Regions from separate parts of the Homo sapiens genome. Here region 1 is linked to region 2. Evidence: fine-mapped expression QTL. A gene starts in region 2. The other region holds a variant in brackets. All regions are shown on one strand. Distances are from middle to middle.

Region 1 (8,345 bases), 150 kb after region 2:
CCTGACTTCAAACTATACTACAGGGCTACAGTAACTAAAACAGCATAGAACTTGTACCAAAACAGACATATAGACCAACGGAACAGAACAGAGGCCTCAGAAATAATGCCTTACATACAACCATCTGATCTTTGACAAACCTGACAAAAACAAGCAATGGGGAAGGGATTCCCTGTTTAATAAATGGTGCTGGGAAAACTCACTAGCCATATGTAGAAAGCTGAAACTGGATCCCTTCCTTACACCTTACACAAAAATTAACTCAAGATGGATTAAAGACTTAAATGTAAGACCTAAAACCATAAAAATCCTAGAACAAAACCTAGGCAATACCATTCAGGACATAGGCATGGGCAAAGACTTCATGACTAAAACACCAAAAGCAATGGCAACAAAAGCCAAAATTGACAAATTGGATCTAATTAAACTAAAGAGCTTCTGCACAGCAAGAGAAACTATCAGCAGAGAGTACAGGCAGCCTACAGAATGGGAGAAAAATTTTGCAATCTATCCATCTGACAAAGGGCTAATATCCAGAATCTACAAAGAACTTAAACAAATTTACAAGAAAAAAACAACCCCATCAAAAAGTGGCCAAAGGATATGAACAGACACTTCTCAAAAGATATTTATGCAGCCAACAGACATACAAAAAAAAGCTCATCATCACTGGTCATCACAGAAACGCAAATCAAAGCACAATGGGATACCATCTCACGCCAGTTAGAATGGTGGTCATTAAAAAGTCAGGAAACAACAGATGCTGGAGAAGATGTGGAGAAATAGGAACGCTTTTACACTGTTGGTGGGAGTATAAATTAGTTCAAACATTGTGGAAGACAGTGTGGTGATTCCTCAAGGATCTAGAACTAGAAATACCATTTTATCCAGCAATCCCATTACTGGGTATATACCCAAAGGATTATAAATCTTGCTACTATAAAGACACATGCACATGTATGTTTATTGTGGCACTATTTACAATAGCAAAGACTTGGAACCAACCCAAATGTCCATAAATAATAGACTGGATAAAGAAAATGAGGCACATATATACCATGGAATGCTATGCAGCCATAAAAAAGGATGAGTTCATGTCCTTTTCAGGGACATGGATGAAGCTGGAAACCATCATTCTCAGCAAAATATCACAAGGACAGAAAACCAAATACCACATGTTCTCACTCATAAGTGGCAGTTGAACAATGAGAACACATGAACACAGGGAGGGGAACATCACACACTGAGGCCTGTTGGGGAGTGGGGTGATGGGTAGGGATAGCATTAGGAGAAATACCTAATGTAAGTGACGACTTGATGCGTGCAGCAAATCAAAATGGCACATGTATACCTATGTAGCAAACCTGCACGTTGGGCCCATGTACCCTAGAACTGAAAGTATAATTAAAAAAAAAAAAAAAAAGACTGGCCTGGACAACATGGTGAAAGGTTAAGGTTGCGATAAGCTGTGATCATGCCTGCACTTCAGCCTGGGCAACAGAGCAAGATGCTGTCTCAAAAAAAAAAAAAAAGTTAGGCTATTAAAACTAAAAGAGAGTCTGAAACTAAACCCATGCATCTATGGTCCTTTGACTATGAAGGTGCCCAGATAATTCAGTGAGGATAACAATAGTTCTACAATAAATGGTGCTAGAACAAATAGATATTAATATTTTTTAAAAATGCAACTTGACCCGTACTTTAAAACACACACATAAATTAAATTGGAAAGGATCACAGACTTAAACATAAAAGCAAAACTATAAAATTTTAGAAGAAAATCCTAGTGACCTTAAAATATTTTCCTTTAAAAAACACAAAAAAGCACAAAGTAGAAGATCAAAAATTGACCAAATATACTGCATCAATATTCAACATGTCTACTTGTCAAGAACTGAAGTATTGAGATACTTGACTTTATCCAACTTACAAACTAGGAAGTTACCTCTGTCCCGTGAACACTGTCACCCAGACTCCTGAGTCATCACTCATGGCACAGCAAGCAGCATGACCATTAGCATTTATCAGTTCCTTTTGCCCCCAAATCCTGCAGAAGCGAAGCAGATGGGCCCAGCTGAATGCCCAAACATGCAGTGAGTTGCATTATTGAAGAGGACCCCTGAGCTTAGGGAACTCAAATCTTTTACTATGTGCAGTAAGCATAGCTGCCCTTCAGTTCGGAAGGAGACATGCTCTTTATTATACTGGCAGTCAGCATGCCGTGCTTTGCTATGAAGGAAGACACCTTGTTTTTCTTCTATGGCTGCTTGCTATGCAAACATCCTTTAAATGATATTCCAGAGAAAAGCTCACAATAGTGTCTTGCTTAAAATAAATGAAGAAACATAACAGGCCCATGAAGAATTGCCTCCTAAAACTGTTCTTCCAAAGACCCTAACCAAATTGGATGTGAGGGTGATCTAGCTGCAACATCTGTCACCTCATTGATTGCCAGTGTTGATTTGGCTGATCTGGCTGGAAAGGCGGGTGTCCCCTTCTTCCTTTATGGCTCCATGTGCCTCCCTCCTGAAGCTGCAAGCTTGGGTTGAAGAGCATGAGCTTCTCTCACAGAGGAGGACCTTCCTTCCATCAAGAATAAATGAGTAGCTGTGTTCCCCTGCCAGAACCTCCAAACAAGGTCCAAAGACCCTGAGCAAATAAAAAGGCACAGACAAAAAATATATATATTTCAACACAAGTATATGACACAGAATATAGAAATAACTTTTCCTAATCAATCAAAATACAAGCAACCCAATTTAAAAATACGCAAAAGATTTAAATAGACATTTCACAAAAGAAGATATTTGAATGGACATGAAATACTGTTGTGAGCTGCATAATGACATTTTGGCCAACAATGTACCACATATATGATGGTGGTCCCATAAGATTATAATGAAACTGAAAAATTCCTATTGCCTGATGACATCATAGCCTTCCTAGCACAAAGTATTGCTCATGTGTTTTTGGTGTTGCTGGTGTAAACAAACCTACTTGTATAGCACATACAATTATGTATGTATATGTAACTATGTATAATACTTGATAATAATAATAAACAACCATATTGTTGGTTTATGTATTTATTTTACTGTAGTTGTCATTTTATTGATTTATTTAAAGACAAGATCTTGCTCTGTTGCCTAGGCTGGAGTGCAGCGGCACTATCGTACATAACTCATTGCAGCCTCAAACTCCTGGAAGCCAGCCTCCTGAGTAGCTAGGACTACAGATGCATGCCACCATGCCCAACTATATTTATTTAGAGATGGGGTCTCGCTATGTTGCCCAGACTGGTCTTAAAATCCTATCCTCAAGAGATCTTCCCACCTCAGCTTCCCAACACACTGGGATTACAGGTATGAGCCATTGCACCTTGCCCCTATTTTTTTTAGAATGTACTCTACTTATTTTTTAAAAAAATTGATTGTAAAACAGCCTCAGACAGGTCCTTCAGAAGATATTCCACAAGAAGGCATTACTATCACAGAGGATGCCAGCTCCACGTGTTACTGCCCTGAAGACATTCCAATGGGACAAGATGTGGAGGTAAAAGACAGTGACAGTGATAATCCCCTCCCTATGTAGGACTAGGATAATGTGTGTGTTTGTTTCTTAGTTTTTAACAGAAAAGTTTAAACAGTGAAAAAATTTATGAAAATTTTTGAACAGAAAATGTTATAGAATAAGGGTAGAAAGAAAAAATATTTTTGTATAGCTATACAGTGTGTTTGTGTTTTAAGCTAAGTGTTATTATAAGAAAGTTGAAAAGTTACAAAATTTAAATGTTTATAAAGTAAAAAAATTACAATAAGCTAAGGTTAATTTATTACTGATGAAAGAGAAATATTTTTCAATAGATTAAGTGTAGCTTACATATACAGTGTTTCTAAAGTCTACAGTAGTGTACAATAATGTCTAGGCATTTCCATTCACTCACCACTCACTTACAGACTCCCCAGAGCAAATTCCAGTCTGGGAAGCTCCATTTATGGTAAGTACCCTATACAGGTGGACCATTTTGTATTTTTGTATAATATTTTTACTATACTTTTTCTATGTTTAGATACACAAATACCTACCATTGTATTACAGTTCCCTACAGTGTTCAACACTTTAACATGCTCTACAGGTTTGTAGCCTAGGAGCAATAGGCTATACCACACAGCCTAGTGTGTAGTAGGCTATAATATCTAGGTTTGTGTAAGTACAGTCTATGATATTCGCACAACAACAAAATCACCTAATAACACACTTCTCAGGAAACATCCCTGTTGTTAAGTGATACATGACTATAAATGAAAAGATGTTCCACAACATCCTTATTCATTATAGAAATGCAAATTAAGACCACAATTTGATAACACTACCTATCCACTAGAATGGCTAAAATTGAAAACCTTAATATAAAACATTAAAAGTAATGGCAAAAACCAGGATTACTTTTGCACCCACCTAATATTACCAAATATTGATAAGAATGTGGAGCAACTGGAACATTCATAGATTGTTGGTAGAAGTTTATAATAGTAAAACCATTTTGTAAGCCTTTCTGGCAATTTTTTTTTTTTTTTGAGATGGAGTCTCACTCTGTTGCCCAGGCTAGAGTGCAGTGGTGTAATCTCAGCTCACTGCAAATCTGGCCCCCTGGTTTAAGCAATTATCCTACCTCAGCCTCCCGAGTAGCCATGATTACAGGCACCCACCACCATACCTGGCTAATTTTTTTTTTCTTTGTATTTTTAGTAAAGATG[G/A]GTTTTCGCCATGTTGGCCAGGCTGGTCTTGAACTCCTGACCTCAGGTGATCTGCCTGCCTCAACTTTCTAAAGTGCTAGGATTACAGGTGTGAGCCGCCATGCCTGGCCACCTTTTTGGCAATTTCTAATAACAATAAAAATACATCTACCTCATGACTCAGCAATTCTATTGTTAGGTATATATTTAAGAGAAATGACATATCTAATAAAAGACTCACAAAAGAATAGTACTTAAATAAGAATGTGAGTGATTAACATACCAACCCAAATCTGGAAACATCCCAAATGTCTATTGATTAGCAAATGAGTAAATTTTGATAAATTCATATACCAAAATACTATTTGGTAATTTAAAAAATTTTTAATTCAGCAATAATTCTGATACATGAATAAATTGCAAAAATATTGTGTTAAACCACAGAAGCCAGATACAAGGGAATATATACTGTATGATTACAGTTTTACCAAATTCTTGAAGAGAATTATTTTGACAGAAAGGAGATCTGGGATACTTTGCAGTTCAGGATAGAGTTTGACTTCAGAGGGGCTCAACAGATCCTTTTAGAGTAATTGAAACATTCTGAATCTTGATTATAGTGGTGGTTACGTAGTTGTATATGTTTGTCAAAACTCATTAAACTATACACTTAAAATATGCATATTTTGTTGCATGTAAATTATGTCTATATTGAGTCGATTAAAAAATCATTTAAGGATATTGTCCAGTTACATAAAAGATGACTTGAAATAATAAACTCCCTGGTAAGATTCTGAATGAAAAAAAATGTAGTGTTAAACTTTAAATACAGTGAAACATAGATTTAAATATAATCAAACCATATGGTATCTATACAAAATAAAATCAAGTTTTTACAATTACTATTATAAAGGTATTAGTGATAATAAGACATAAAGTAGTTGGAAGCAAAATTCATAATCAAATCTTAATTGCCTTGCTGTCTACAATTCAAAAATGTAATGCAACAACACTCGTTCAAGTAACAACACAAAAGCAAAAACACTTAAGCATACACTTGAAAGGAAATATAAATGACATATATAGAAATATTTTGTAATTCCACTGTGGAAAGTTAAATCAGGGTATACTTGAATAATATAAAACTAGTTTGGTTGACTATTGCTGCATTGCAAACAACCCCAAAACTAAGTAGCTTAAAATATTTATTTATCTGTGGCTTTCCTGGAGTTTAGCTGGCCTGGGAGGAATTTGGCTGGGCACGTCTGCTTTTTCCTATAATTCTGTAGGTTTGCTGGGGTGCTTCCTTTTCAGATTGTGGTAGCTGGGATGGATCTGCTTTCTAACTCTTTCATCTTCCTTCTGGGACCTAAAATAAAGCTAGATAAAGTTCTAATGGCAGTGACAAAGCTCAAGAGGGCATCCCTATGACCCAAGAGCATTTCAAATTCTGCTGCGTTACTTCTGCTAATATATTATTGACCAAAGCAATTCCACATGTTCATGGCTAAAGTCAATGGGCAGAAAAAAAAATTACCTTTCCTATGAAGGCATACAAGAGACTGCAAAGTTACATGGAAGTGTTGTGTTATGGACTGAACATTTGTGTTTCCCCTAAATGTATAAGTCAAAGCCCTAACTCCCAATATGATGATATTAAGAGGTAGATTCTTTGAAAGATAATTAGGTTTAGATAAAGTCATGAGGGTAAAGCCCCCATGATGAGATTAGTGCTCTTGTAAGAGGAAGGCAACAGCTTCCTCTTTCCACTATGTGAGGACAGAGCGAGAAGTTGGCTATCTTTAAGCAAGGAAGCAGGCTCTCACCAAGAATCAAATCTGTTGGCACCTTGATCTTGGATTTCTCAGCCTTCATAACTATGATAGAATAAATTTCTATTGTTTAAGCTGCCCAGTCTATGGTATTTTGTTATCTCATCCAAACTAGACTAAAACAGATTGTCATACAGAGGTAGTTGAATAATTGGGCCAATAATGCAATCTACCAAAAAGACTTATCTGGATTTTAGACAGAAACAGGCAGTCATTGTGGTAGTTTTAAATCACTTACACAAATTTGTTGATGCTCCTCTCATAAAGAGGAGTCCACAATCCCTCCACTTGAACCAGGGAGGACTCATCAATGAATAGAATGTGCCAGTAGAGATGCTACATGACTTCTGAGGCTTTGTTAGCAAAGGCCCCATGCTTTTAAAAAAAAAAAATCCCTCAATCCTTCTGAATAATAATTATTGTGCTAAATAAATGTGTTAATTTGCATAATATGTTAGTAAATATGTTTGGTTAGAGTGACTAAACTATATCTAATAATGAACACCTTTAATTGTGCTTACCTTCACATTTTAAAAATTGTTTTATTTACAATCTATAAACAAATTAAAAAATAGAAAAATGACTTTTGGCTTTGCTTACAGAACTCAGCTTTCAAACCATATGACTCACAATAATTAAGAATAAAATAATTGTATAAGGCCAATTTTTTCCTGATTATTGTACAAAGAAGTTGCGAGAGCTGCTTCTCTCTCTCGCAACTATATATGTGTATATACATATATAATATACACATATATATGTGTATATTATATATGTATATATGTGTGTATATATTATATACATATATGTGTGTATATATATTATATACACATATATAGTTGCGAGAGAGAGATATATATATATATAATTGCAAGAGAGAGAAGCAGGGAGCACACAGATTCATAAAGCAAATATTACTAGATCTAAAGAGAAAGATAAACTACAATACAATAATAGACCCCATTCTCAGCATAAGACAGATTAGCTAGACAGAAATTCAACTAAGAAACACTGGGTTTAAACTGGACTTCAGACCAAATGGATGTTATAGAGGTTTACAGAACATTTTATCTAACTGTCTGCATACATTCTTTTCACTAGCACATGAAACATTCATCAGGGTAGACAATATGTTAGGACACAAAACAAGTCTAAAAAATTTTGGATCAAAATTATATCAAGTATCTTCTCAGACCGCAATAGAATAAAACTAGAAATCTATCAGGGAATCTGCCCCGATACTCACGTAGGTTCTTTTCTATTTTCCTTAAGCATCGGCCAGCTTGAGAAATAAAGGGACAAAGTACAAAAGAGAGAAATTTTAAAGCTGGGCATCCAGGGGAGACATCACATGTCGGTAGGTTCCGTGATGCCCCACAAACCGCAAAAACCAGCAAGTTTTTATTAGGGAGTTTCAAAAGGAGAGGGAGTGTGCGAATAGGTGTGGGTCACAGACATCAAGTACTTTACAAGGTAATAGAATATCACAAGGCAAGTGGAGGCAGGGCGAGATCACAGGACTATAGGACCGGGGCGAAATTAAAATTGCTAATGAAGTTTTGGGCACCATTGTCATTGACATCTTATCAGGAGACAGGGTTTTGAGATCAACCAGTCTGACCAAAATTTATTAGGCGGGAATTTCCTCTTCCTAATAAGCCTGGGAGCACTATGGGAGACTGGGGTCTATTTCACCCCTGCAGTCTCGACCACAGGAGATGGCCATGCCCAGGGGATCCAGTTCAGAGACCCACCCCCAGGTGCGCATTCTCTTTCT
Region 2 (8,278 bases):
AGGAAATAAGTGTTAGAATATGCATTTAGGTGTTTACAGAATATGGAAGGGTAAGTTTTAAGGAAAGGATTTGGGTAGATTATGGATAATTAGCAAAAAAGAAAAAGGAAGAAGGTGGCTGGGTATTTTGGAGAAAATGTGATCTATAAATACTGCACTTATTAGAATCAGAAACAATCTGAATATTTGACTTGGGAATTTTTTTAACAAGTCAGGATTTCTTCACTACTTCAATATTTTGTGTACTGCATGATTTTCACCAGTGGAAAACTAGTGTTAGAAACTGGATACATGTTATCTTTATTTCCTTGAGGTTGTCGCTAACCAGTTTTTTCTGGTGTTGTCCCTTATTTTCAATGTCTGTGAGACAAGTGAAAATGCCACTTTGCTTAGAAATGCAATTTATCCACCATACTATAGGATAAGTAAAATACATGAAGCAAATCAACAGCTTTTAGATTTATGGCAAACTGTTGTAAAAATGGATAAAATGTTCAATACAAAGTCCACTTACTCTTTGACAACTGGAAATTGTACTTTGCTTAGAAATAAATTTTCCGTACCATACCAGAACTTAAGCCAAATACAGGTGGTAAGTCAGCAGGTTCGTAAATCCATAGCAATTGTCATTAAAAATGAATAAGGTGTCCAAATAGAAAGTCCAGTTATTATTTGACAACTGAAAATTTTACTTTGCTTAGAAATATATTTTCTCTATATTAGAAATTAAGCCAAATATATGTGGTAAGTCAGCAGATGCATAGATCTATAGCAAATTGTCATTAAAAAGGGATAAAATGTCCAAATAGAAAGTACAATTACTATTTTACAAGTGAAAATTCCAGTTTGTTTTGAAATCGTTTTCTAAAACCCTAGAACTTAAGCTAAATACATAAGGTAAATTCAACAGCTTTATAAATACATGGCAAATTTTCATTAAATGGGTAAAATGTCCAAAGAGAAAGTCTAGTTATTATCTAACAAGTGAAAATCCCACTTTGTTTTGAAATACAATTTTCTTAACATACTAGAAGTTAAATATAGGTGTTAAATCAACAGCTTCGTAGATCTACAGCAAATTCTCATAAAAATAGATAAAATGTCTAAATACGAAGCCCAGTTATTATTTGATAAAATAAATAATACACATTAACTCCTCTTTGCTGTATATGCAACCCTGTGCAAAATGGGCAGAAATAGTCAACACCAGAAATAAATATCTGAGAAAATCCAAAATTCACATAGATATTAAATATCCAAAATATGTTTAAAGTTCTTATCTATTAATTTGGTTTTGGTTTTGGTTTTGAAAATGTTTGTTGTTCTAGACAACACAAAAATGTTACCTAAAGTATTGCTCTATTAATGTTATCTTTCTGTTTTATTTTTAGTATTGTTTTGTTTTTTGGATAACAAAAAGGTTTTATCTAAATTACTTATATATTGATGCTGTTTTTTCCCTTAGAAAATTCTATTTCTAAGCAAAGTGAAAATATTTTCATATGTAGAGGAATAAAAAACTACAATATGTTAGAATAGTGAGATGGGAGAAAATTCTTCTCAGTTTTCTGGTTTTAAATATTTATGTACTAAGGTTGTTCATTTAAAATTTTAATTAAAAAATTAATATTATTTCCTTTAAAGAAAGCTCTCCAAACTTAATGTTATTTAACATTTAAAGGCTCTTTGGAAAGAAAATAATCGAGGAGAATTAATTTGATCTTGTTTTTAACTTTTAGAAAGTATTTAACTGCAATCCTATGAAAAATATTTATTGTATAGCTACCTATATATGCATAGAGAACGTCTGAAAAAGCAGACTCTATAATGTTTACTGGTGTTATTGCAGGGTGAATAGGTTACAGGTGACCTTTTCTTTAGAGTTTTCTAGGGTTTTCTCTCCTGAATTTTGTACAATGACCTGAAATTACTTTTATTATGGTAAAATACTAATTACGTTTTTTAAAAAAAGTCCTGGTTAGCATTTTGAAATGAAAAAATCAAATTGGTTCAAACTTGTTCAAACTTTTAAAGTCTTAAGATGGATTTTTGAACTTTAATTTTTCCTGCTTTTCATCTATACTGGTTTTAAATCTCAATTTTTAGAAAAATAATGTCTCAGTTAACTAGGTGAAGTAACTTTCGAATTTAAACAAACAAACAAAACTGGTAAGAATTTGACAGCGGTCACCAGAACAGTACTCTACCAAGCATAAGAAATCCTGGAATTATTCTATCTTGCAGAAGAGGGTGAACATCCTAAAGATTAAATTAAAAGGCACTTCTAAAAAGTATAATTGTGTTTACCCAACTTCCTAGGGAAATGTCTTTGTTAAAAAGCTGCATTTCATTCATTCATATTCCGGATAGTGGGCATTTTCTAATAAAAAGTAAAATCTCAGTAAATGGGCTACAGTTTTGTTTATTCCTAGAAAGGCTCTCTTTTAAAGTGCGGTGTCTGCAACGTTGTTATGACAATAAGTCAAATTCTTATTGATATTCCAAGTATAAAATAATCCGTAGCAATGTTACTAAAATGTGCTCAATTTTGCTCTTCAAATATGAAAGCGTTTCATCTGTGTTTCAGAAACCTAACTCAGCTGTAGACAATTTGGTTTTCCCTTTTAACTTAAACTTGTTTTACTAAGATCATCAACAGATTGTCAGTTTCCCAAGCACCTGACACTGAGGCGCTTAGATGGGAATCCGCGTTAAGGTTTTATTTAGCATCCTTCCTCATCAGAATTTTAGCGTCTTATCAGCCACTGCAATTTTCCCTGACATAAAATATATATGTTCATAGTACAAATGCACGCAAATATTTGTGGCCGAATCTCGGCAACCCGCTGGAAAGGATTAAACGTGCGGTTGCCGTGACTAAACGCATTCATTCACCCTACAAGATTTAGGAAAATGTAACGTTGCAAGGGAAGCAAGGTCTCTGTGTAAACCTCGTAATCGCCACCAAAAGTCGGTAGCTGGGAGCCTTCAAAGCCCGCCAAACACACTGGAAGCATCCACAGCTGTTTTAAATTGGTTTTGGTTTCTGGAAATAGCGCACTCGGTACGGCAGCATCTCTGGCCTCCAGCCGGGGTTAACCCTGACCTGAACGCCCTGTTTAGCTCCCAGCATTTCATGATTCCGCTTCCCTGCTCCGTAAAACCGAAGAAAACCGAGATTTCCGTCACCGAGAAATGCACTTAGCAAGAGGGGGAAATTCGGTGTTTTAAATGTCACATTTTTGTGTTCTCTACCACTATCAAGAAAAGGAAAAAAGATGTGTTTGTGTAGCGGGGACGCAGCTTGACACCCATTTCCTTTGGCTCGCATCGCGGTCGCAGAGCCCAATCGCGGGGAAACGGGCCCCCCAGAAAAACAGGCAACGACCCCCAGCTCTTTGCTACAGGGATCGGGAGAGGACTACCCTGGGGCTGGGCGGGGAGGGGGATGTTGGGAACAGGAATTGGAGATGGAATTTCTGCGCCCGCAGAGCAGGGAGGGGCCCGCGGGGGCGCGGAGAGGAAAAAAAGGCCAGGGGTCAAGCCTGGGGAGAGAGAAGCTGGGCCGGGGAAATGGGGTACAGGGTGTACTGAAGGAGGGGTACGGTGGGGTCCGGGACAGAAAGAGAGGCTGGTGCCCAAAGGGCGCGCTCAGGCGCCCGGAACCCGAGCGGGGGAGGGGGAGGCGGCGGCCTGTTGGCCCCGGGACCTCCACGTCGCGCGCAGGCCACTAACCTGTCAGCAAGAATGTGCCAGTGGTCGCGGGGCTCATCCTGCGTGTCCCCCGACCCTGTCCCGTCCAAGCACAGGGGTCTCCCAGCTCCCACCACCGGGGCAATTGCATTCTTGGCCTGGCTAGGCCGTCCGTCCTCGATTCTCCCCTCCCCTCCCTTTCTTCTTCCCTCCCAGCTTGGCCAGTTCAGCATCAGCATCCCGCACCCCCTCGGTAATCCCGTACTCCCTCTAGCGGCGGGCCACTGCAGCGTGGCCACCGCCCCCACCCCCATCCCCCATCCCCGCACCCCCCTCCACCCCCTAGCCCGCGGAGCACGCTGGGATTTGGCGCCCCCCTCCTCGGTGCAACCTATATAAGGCTCACAGTCTGCGCTCCTGGTACACGCGCTTCAACTTCGGTTGGTGTGTGTCGAAGAAACCTGACTGCGCCCTGAGGAGAACAGCGGAGAAGGTCCACCGAGCCTGGCGAAAGGTCCGCTGAGCGGGCTGTCGTCCGGAGCCACTCCGGGCTGCGGAGCACCCAGTGGAGACCGCGCCTGGCTCAGGTGTGGGACCCCATCCTTCCTGTCTTCGCAGAGGAGTCCTCGCGTGGTGAGTATGCGGTGAGGACGTTTTTTTTTTAAAGATCACGTTCATTCCCCGTGCTTATCGGGAGCTGCGGGAGATGGAGTAGCACCCCAGAATGTCTCCACGCAAAACTTGTCACGCCTTCACTGGCTGTACCCCAAAACAAATGGGGAAACCAAGCCTTAAAGGCTTGGGTTTCCAGGACCAAGTCCAGATACGGGCTGTAGACAGAGATGAGCTGCGGACAGTGATGAGCTGCAGACGGTCAGGAGCTATAGATCGATTTGCAATTTGCTCTTCAAATGCGCTACCAAGTGCCATGCTTTACAAACAGATAAGCGCTTCAAATGCGCTACAAACTGGCGCTTCAGATGCGCTACAAGCACGCTTCACGCGGGCGACAAACTGATGGGAGCTACAACTGGCGCTTCATTGCGCTATAAACTGATGGGCGCTTTATGTGCCACAAACTGACGGATGGGCGCTTCAGTGGCGCTACAATCCAGAACGAGGAGCAGCGATATAGGAGCTGCAGACAGAAAACTGAATTGCGCTTTACATGCGCTGCAAAATCTGAGCTGCAGAAGAGTAGCACTACAAAAAACGCTACAAAAACGATGCGATTAGCCAGCCCGACAACAGCGCTTCATTGCGCTGCGAGGCACATGAACTGCAGAGGTACATGAGCTGCGGAACAATTCACACCTAAGATGCACTACAAAGTGGTAAGAGCTGCAGAGGTACAGGAGCTGCAGACCGTTTGCGCTACAAATAAAGCAGCCGTAGTGGGACATGAGCTGCGGAGTACAATTCCTCTGTTTTCTTGGAGCAGGACCCCACCCTTTCACCTTTTGGAATGGCTCCCACTCTATTTTTCTGCAGGACGGTTCTCGCATGATGGTGCTGGTAGACAAAATGGAGCCCCGGGCAAAAATTAGTGTTTAACATTCTGCCCACACCATTCCCGCTATAGCAGTGGAGTGGAGGGGCACTGATTGGAGTGGAAATGGGAATCTTTTGGTGATGGCAGAGCAGGCTGCCTGCCTACTTGTGCTTGATTGAAGTGGCGGTGTAGTTGTGGTGGCGCGAATCAGCGTCCAGCAACAGTTTGTGGAAACTGTGGGTTTGCTGAGTATGGCGGGGGAATTGGATCTGTGGATTGCTCTTGCTGCATGAAATGAATCTGGCTTTGGTGACTGGTGGGAGGGGTTTGGGAGGGGGGATTCTGGCGGCGGGGGGGGGGGGTGTGCAGATACTCTGCAGCCCTGTAGCAGCCAGTCTCAGGCCTGCCCCGCCCATCCTAGTGTGCCTTCTCTGCGGTGCTTAGCGCCTCCTCCTACAGCGCCTCCTCAGAGCGCGCCTCCCCTGCAGCGCGCCTTCCCAGAGCGCGCCTTCTAGATGCGGCCTCCTCAGGCCCCTCCTCCCAGCTCCTTAGCGCCTGCCTGCCCAGGCCCCACCTCTCTCTGGCCACCTCATTCTGAGGTGAGCTGCTCAGGCCCCGCCTCTTCCAGGCCCGCCTTTTCTGTGGTGAGCTGCCCAGGCCCTGCCTCTCCCGGGCCCACCTACTCTGAGGTGAACTGTCCAGGCCCCGCCTCTCCCGGGGCCGCCCCCTCTGAGGTGAACTGCCCAGGCCCCACCTCTCCTGGGCCCGCCTCCTCTGAGGTGAACTGCCCAGGCCCCGCCTCTCCTGGGCCCGCCTCCTCTGAGGTGAACTGCCCAGACCCCACCTCTCCTGGGCCCGCCTCCTCTGAGGTGAACTGCCCAGGCCCCGCCTCTCCTGGGCCCGCCTCCTCTGAGGTGAACTGCCCAGGCCCCGCCTCTCCTGGGCCCGCCTCCTCTGATGTGAGCTCACCCAGATCCCACCTCCCCAGGCCCGCCTCCTCTTAGGTAGCCTGCTCAGGCCCCGCCTCTCCAAGGCTTGGCCCCTCCCTAAGCCTGCCTCTGCCGGGCTGGCCTATAGTCCCACCTCCCTCAGAGCCGGCTAGCACACATGCGCAGTGTGAACCCTCAGCCCCTCCCTTCAGGCGCCGGTCCTCTGCACCTGCGCACCTTCCTTGCCTGAGCCCTGGCTGTACAGCCCCGCCCCCCTGCGGTTTCTCTGCTGTGTTGGTTTTGCTTTTTGGCTACTAGAGTCTAATAGAATAATAAATAAAACAATTAACAATAATAATTATAACTGGAATTTATGAGCACTTTTAATATGTTCTTTGCATATATTCAATAACATAATCCCACAATTTAAACTCCTGATAGTGGCTTATGAAGGGACCTTGTAAACTGACATGGCTGGTGCCTCTAAAGGCAATTTAGCCAAATGTTTTTACTGCAAATGAAAACCAAAACTTAACAATTTATTTTTAAAAACTTTAAAAATATTTTCACATTTAAGGTTTTTTTAGAGGCACTAGTGGACCTTTGGGAATCGGATGTTTTGGTGGATACAAAATTGGTGCTGTTGGTTTGGCCTCTGAGTGAGGATAAGGCTTTTATTTGCGTGCCTATGAAGCTGGGTGTTTTCCTTGAATCTCTAGGTGATTAACCCTAGCCTATTTGCCTATGTATAATAAATTGTGCCTGCACATGGTAGGCATTCATTAAATATGTGTTAAATGACCAGAGTAAATTGGTTTATTCAGTGTCTTGCTTGGTGTCTGTAGGTCTCTTCTGATTTGCTCCTTTCCTATGGTGCTTTGCTGTCCTGGGTTGCCTTGTTTGCGTTATCTCTCACATTTAACAGAATAAAAAAAAAGTGTATGTGTTTTTAAACTCCAATGATATAAGCTGTAATTATAATACAAAGCAACTAAATTAATTTTAATTATTCCAAATAATTAGCTTTTTTCATAAAAAGCTAGTTATTCCAAATATTAGCTTTTTTCATGAAAAGCTAGTTATTCCAAATAATTAGCTTTTTTCATAAAAAGCTAGTTATTCCAAATAATTAGCTTTTTTCATAAAAAGCTAGTTATTCCAAATAATTAGCTTTTTTCATAAAAAGCTAGTTATTCCAAATAATTAGCTTTTTTCATAAAAAGCTAGTTATTCCAAATAATTAGCTTTTTTCATAAAAAGCTAGTTATTCCAAATAATTAGCTTTTTTCATAAAAAGCTAATTTAAATTTGGGGCAAGTGTATTATTAATGGTACATATTGTATTAAAGTTTGTGTAATGTAATATAAAGTGGCCACATTACAAAATATAGGTTGTTTCAGCTTGCAAAATTAAACAACTGTATAAAACAAATTTATAACTGATTGCTAGTAAGAGGTACCATGTAAGAATTGTGTTTCCAGCTGAATGAAGAAATTTTAAAACCTGGTTCCATATATTACAAATCATGAGCCAGGACTTTGGTAGGGGAGGAATTGGGGGCTTTGGCTCCCAAAAATCTCTGTCACATACCCCCTCCCCACCACAAGTACACAATCTATGGAAAATTTGTGCTTATCATAATTACAGCTTTAAGTAATTTTCCCTTCTCTTTGGATATTGTATATTTGCATATTGAAGAGGTTCAAAACAACAGTAATAACATGCATATTAAGAGAATTTGCATTTCATAAATAGTACAAGATAGTACTAAAAAATTGGACATTTGAAAATATGAAGCAACTAAGAGTTGCTTAATGAGATGTCATTTCCTAACAGGATGTTCATTTATGGTTTTTGGCTACTATTGCTCTTTGGTGTGTTTGTGGAATAGAAATTATTCCAAGCTATTGTGAAGAGTCAATAATTAACCAAATGTATTTATTTCCTAAAAAGACTAAAACTGAAATTATTATCATGTAAAGATGGCATCTGTCCTAGGCAACTTGGCTTTATGCAGTTTGTCCTTTCAGTTTTCAGGAATGAGACCTCTTGACCCCTCCCCTCCAATGCAGCCCCTACTAAGGGGGAGTTTAAGGAGCCATACATAGTTCTATAATTCAAATCAAGTAAACATGCTTCTTGTCCCAGGTTAACTTGTGCTGC

The links.
Region 1: its variant is fine-mapped to the expression of PEG10 in tibial nerve (GTEx, PIP 0.90).

Annotation. Positions count from the first base shown.
Region 1 is chr7:94,799,109-94,807,453 of GRCh38, forward strand. It overlaps the pseudogene RN7SKP129. Among named protein-coding and RNA genes, the nearest start is that of PPP1R9A, 100 kb to the right of the region's middle. The variant G/A (reference allele first, on the strand shown) is at 4,758.
Region 2 is chr7:94,652,255-94,660,532 of GRCh38, forward strand. PEG10 (paternally expressed 10) reads left to right here and starts at 4,071. Exons shown (of 2, transcript NM_001172437.2): 1 at 4,071-4,337. The coding sequence starts at 4,333. SGCE (sarcoglycan epsilon) reads right to left here and starts at 3,879. Exons shown (of 11, transcript NM_003919.3): 1 at 3,736-3,879. The coding sequence starts at 3,844. RefSeq lists enhancers at 3,227-4,004, 5,274-5,323, 6,103-6,397 and a silencer at 5,794-6,033.